2 separate regions of the Homo sapiens genome follow, and region 1 is linked to region 2. Evidence: fine-mapped expression QTL. Tissue or cell type: whole blood. Region 2 holds a variant in brackets; the other region holds the start of a gene. All regions are shown on one strand. Distances are from middle to middle. Region 1 holds the start of MFSD1 (major facilitator superfamily domain containing 1). Region 2 overlaps MFSD1 (major facilitator superfamily domain containing 1).

Region 1 (2,500 bases), 26 kb after region 2:
ACCAACCACTGTCAAGACTACCACAAGTCCCGTCCAATATGATTGCTTCACAGTGGCAGAGTGGAAGATTAAGAGAACAATATCTATTCACTGAAGCTATCAGCAAGACACACTCATACATTTTCTCAAAGAGGGTGAAAAATATATAGAAGACTGCCGACGAAATCATTCACGTTTTTTAAAAGCTGGACAACATTGTAAGACCCTGTGTCTAAAAATAATAATAATAATAAAGCCGGGTGTGGTGGCGCCCCATCTGTGGTCCCAGCTACTCGGGAGGCTGAGGCGGGAGGATTGCTTGAACCCAGGAGGTGGAGGCTGCAGTAAGCCACTTTCACAACACTGCACTCCGGGCTGGGTGACAGAGCAAGCCCCTGTCTCACCTAAAACCAAACAAACAAAAGTTGTTTAGGAACAGTTAAAGCTTTCTGAATTTCCTCCGACCACGTGTGCCAAAAGAGGAACCTTGAAAATCTGGAGTTACCTTCATATCTATCGCCTCTAGGGCGAGTCGCTAGCCCCTGGGACTTACTGAAGAGCAAAGGAGTGCCACAAAACTCGCCCAGCTCAGTCCCTCGACCTCCACGTTCCGGACGCGGAGTAACTAGCAACATCCACAGGTGTGGCTGGAATCGATCGCAAAGGGGAAAATAAGGAGGCCCAGGAGCTTAAGACAGAAGCTGCGCTGAGGCCCCGTGGCACCAGTGACCACGATGACGATCTACCTCGAAGAGAAAGTCGGGAATTCCTTAAAGATCAGCCCCAACCCACCCGGCCGGCTCACCAAAGCCAAGGAAGCACATCAGTAACAGCACCAAAAGCCGGTGCGCCAGGCGACTGGGGTCGCAGAGGGCCGGCAGGGCTCCAGGGGCGGCCGGGGCACCTCTGTCGGCCTCGTCAGGGCCGCCTGCCAGGAGCGCCCGCGCTTCCTCATCCTCCTCCTCCATTGCGCCCGCAGGAGACGGAGAGGGGAAAGTGGTGACAACTCCAAACCCAGGCAGGAAGCAGCGCCCGTGGAACACTGTCAAGACGGCGGTCACATGACTCCGGGAGCTCACGTGACGCCCCGGCAGGTCACGCAGGGCCACGCCCATGTGAGCGGCCGCGAGCGCTGGGAGGACGGACCCAGCGGTCGATGACAGGGCCTGGCGCGGTTCGCTTTTCCTGGGTGACTGTGTTCGTGGGGCTGAGGCCCTCGAGGTGCCCACTTCCAGCTTTCCACCAATTACTGCACTGTCTTTCCGTTTCCTGCCCCGCTGACGCGTACACCTATTTCAGACTCAGCGCAGCTCCGCGGGGAGAAAAGTGCGGGGCTCCCTCTCGGCTCCACACCAGACTCCGGAGTAGTTCGAACTGCGCTGGGGTCGCCAAGACGCGCGCTGCCCTTCTCCCAGCACTGCCCTCCCCAGCGTCTTTGACCACTCTTAATACCCACAAACTTGATCGGACAATTTCTGGTGTGTCCAGCCATGTGTCACGTACTGGGAATACAAAATAGAATGAGGCAAGCTCCCTGACCTCAAAGATTTCAGAGTTCAGTTGGAGAAATCGACAGAATCTGGTACTTTTAAAACTAAACATGATGAATGAATGTGGTGAGAACAGCGGCAGAAAATGGCACTGAATTCCATAGAAATATCTGGAAAGGTCATTTCAAAAGGGGAGAAAAGGTGCGTAGTTTAGCCAGCTTTCAGGGCAAGGGAGTGAGGGGCGCTGAAGCTCCTTGAAGTTGAAACCCAGGCTAGAATGAGTAAGAATGCGCCAGTCAGGGTGCTTGTTTGAGCGGGTTGGTTGCAGGGCGGGCAGTTACGAGGGATAATAAAGACAAAAGCGTGAAACAGAACTGGGTGTGTATGTGTTTGTGTTGAACGACAGAGAAGGAACTCGAGTAGAAACACTAAACCTGTTTCAAGAAGAGCCATGCAAGGATTTTGAGCACAGCAGCAGGACTGCAAGCTTTGTGTTTTAAAAAACATTCGGTCTGCCAGCACAGCACCATCGTCGCTTTCTGGGAGCCCTCAGGCTTTACTAACAGAATTTTGAGGGCGTCAAAGCTAGAGGCTGAAAACTGTGAGGATTATTAGGAAGATGCTGCAGTCGTAACGATTAGAGATGACGAGGGCCTGTTAGCAATAAAAAGCAGGAATGGCACAGAAGAAAATCAGTAATTATTTAGGAGGTAAAATGGGAATAACTGTAAATAATAGCCTATGCGATCTGAAAGAGAGGAAAGACTTGAGAGTGTCTCCCAGATTTCTAGCTTGGGCCGCCAATAGAGATCAAAATTTAGAGAGAGAAGGAGGTAGGAGAGAGTGTCAAGGATCAGGTGCTGCCTTTGAGATGTCTATACATATCTCCACTTTCACAGTCCATTCTCTCTTCAGCTCCAGTGGAGGAGCTCCCGATCTAATAAAACTGTCTTGCCGAGAGGAGTAATAACTCCATCTTTCCAAATACATTAGTCACTTCTCTGTCATCTTACTCAACTTCTATCAATTGA
Region 2 (3,033 bases):
ATGTACATAGGCAATTATCATAATTTGAAGGACACTTTTTACTTATTAGACTATAAGAAAAACTGTACAGAAAGTTTATACTATAAAATTACATCCCTAAGTGATTAGGGTCCTCAGTAACACAGAAATAAGAAATTGAAAAGGGTCATTGCTCGGCAATCCACATAACTACAGAGTAGAGCGCAAGCTATTGTTCGTGATCAGAAAGAGACTTCATAAAAACATCTTCACATATTCCCTAGCATTATGCCCTACTAGTAAAAGGAAGGCCTATGACAATGCCATTGTTTATTTTGTGTAACGCAGCCCTTCTATTTCCCTCAAAAGTTTTTTTTTCCTGCTATAAGATAAAGAAAAGGCTGTATCCCTAAGATATATACCTAATGAAGATTATCTCAACAGAAGCTCCAACGTTTTCCATTTTTCACTGTCTTTCCTGAAGTTCACCTGGATGTTCCACAGCAATTTTCTAACCCTTTCATTGTTGATTAGCCTACTAAAAGTAGAATTCTTTAGCAACACACAATACAAAAGACACAGGCTAAAACAGGCCTCACAAATACACTTTGAAATAGGTATATTTGGATATAAATATAACTTTCCAGTCCATTATTTTTTCTAATGACTAAACTCTAAATTTTTAAAAATGGAAGTTTTCAAACCAACGATGTGTTAAGCCCATTCTCATGACACATTCATTTTAACTTCTCATCTGCAAAACATAACGCAATAAATTACCAAAGAGGAAGAAAAAAACATGAAGCTCACCTGCCTTATAAAATGAAAACCAAGCATTACAAGACATGTAATAGCAAATACTAAGCTACACATTTTTTTTCTGAGCAATTTTTTAACTCTTCTTGATCCTAAAAGTCACAAAAGATCAATGTAGAAAATTTGAAAAATATTCTGAGTTTTTAATTAATATTCTGAGGTTTCAATTAATATGAGGTTATTTCTAGTAGTATATTTTCTATTATACATAAGTAATTGGGTTTAAAACAAGCATGTGACAGCATACTTTTTCTTGAATAAAATTAGGATATTATATTTGCATTTTTATCTTTTGTTTACTTAGCATACGGCATGTTAAGCATCTATGACATTAAAAATCCTTCTAAAACATGGTTTTAACAACATATCACATGGATGTGTCATGATATATTTAACCATTTTCCCTACTCTAAGACATTTATGTTGTTTCCAAACTTTTAACATAATATGACTATCATAAAGATATTCAAAACTCATACTTCTGATTATTTTAAGATGTATTTGTTAAAAGTGAATTTAATATGACCAAAACCACCCCCATCTCAAAAAAACAGACTGTTCTACCAGATTTTAACCTAGTCAAAAGTCACAACAATTACAATCACATGGTATATATATTTACAAATAAATGTTTAAAATCATAAAAACTTCAATGTCTAAAAATATTAGAAATAACAGGAAACAGAATCACTATTATGTTTCAGTACATACTTTTAGAAAAAGAAATGTTAACTTAATCACCATGCTATATACTTAAATCTCTTCCAAATGAATCAGAGAACACAGAACCACATATTGGTACCAGAAGAAGATGAAAAATTATCAACTACTTAAGAAAAAGAAAATATCTGAGAGAATGGAAGGGTAAGCCCAGTCCAGGACCTCAGGAC[G/A]AAGGCCTTTCCTCCAATAAATTACAAGTAATATAGATCGATCTCTGTCTCTCTCTCTCTCTCTCTCTCTCTCTCTCTCTCCCCCTCTCTCTCTCTCTCTCTCTCTCTCTCCCCCTCTCTCTCTCTCTGTGTCTCTCTCTGTCTCACAGAGAACAACTTAAATTGAATTATTTTTTTTCTTCGTTTCAAGCCTTAATATCCATTTTTAAATTTTCTGAAGCAAACAAGAATGTTGTTATAATAGTTCCACACACATAATAGCTAGCTCTCAAAACTCAAGGAAAACTAATCTCTTAGAAGTTCAAAGCCCAGGCCAGGCGCAGTGGCTCACATCTGTAATCCCAGCACTTTGGGAGGCCGATGCAGGCAGATCACTTGAGCCCAGGAGTTCTAGACCAGCCTGGGCAACATGGCAAAACCCCATCTCTACTAAAAATACAAAAAATTAGCCAGACATGTTGACACACAACTGTAGTCCCAGCTACTTGGGAGGCTGAGATGGGAGGATTGCCTGAGCTGAGGAAGTTGAGGCTTCAGTGAGCTGTGACCATGCCACTACACTCCAGCCTGGACGACAAGCATGGGAATCAAAAAAAAAAAAAAAAACTTCAAAGCCCAAACCTTGAAACGAAATGCTCATATTTAAGATTTCAAAAATAAAGACAACTTTTTACCCTTTTAATACTTACTCAGTATGGGAAAATTTTATTTCTTCCCTTTGTCTTGCAGAATAATTTAGGTTCCCACCTAAAACACAAATAAACATAGATCTTTTCCATATAAGTATTATCAGTAAGTAAATTTCAACCATACATACATACATGCAACCATTTGCATAGATACACTGTATTTTAAGTAATAGAAAAAGCTATCGACGATGAAAAAGTAATGGTTTATCTACTGGAACCTTCCCAAAGGGAAAAAATGAAATTCTTGTGTGATATAAATAATCACCCCTTAATTTAAGCATTTTTTTAAGTTTGGACTTATGTATTGCTTCAAGTGTTGTTACTTAGGACACTGTATTAATATTCAATAATAGTGAAAATTAAGAGAAATTAAAGGAAATGAACAGGTGTGGTAGCTCACGCCTGTAAATCCCAGGCTAAGGCGGGAGGATTGCTTGAGCTCAGGAGTTTGAAACCAGCCTGGGCAACATAGGGGGACCCCATATCTAGAAAAAATTTTAAAATTAGCTGGCTGTGGTGGCATACACCTATAGTCCCAGCTGTTTGGGAGGCTAAAGTGGGAGGATCACTTGATCCTGGGAGGTTGAGGCTGCAGTGAGCTGGGATCGCACCACTGCACTCCAGCCTGGGTGACAGAGTGAGACTCTGTCAAAGAAAAAAAGAAAAGAAAAAAAAAACTA

Evidence for each region.
Region 1: it holds the start of MFSD1, and the variant in region 2 is fine-mapped to the expression of MFSD1 in whole blood (TOPMed, PIP above 0.99).

Annotation. Positions count from the first base shown.
Region 1 is chr3:158,800,600-158,803,099 of GRCh38, reverse strand. MFSD1 (major facilitator superfamily domain containing 1) reads right to left here and starts at 1,046. Exons shown (of 16, transcript NM_022736.4): 1 at 785-1,046. The coding sequence starts at 947.
Region 2 is chr3:158,826,658-158,829,690 of GRCh38, reverse strand. It overlaps MFSD1 (major facilitator superfamily domain containing 1), which reads right to left. Exons shown (of 16, transcript NM_022736.4): 15 at 2,354-2,411; 16 at 1-712. The coding sequence ends at 709. Among named protein-coding and RNA genes, the nearest start is that of MFSD1, 26 kb to the right of the region's middle. The variant G/A (reference allele first, on the strand shown) is at 1,665.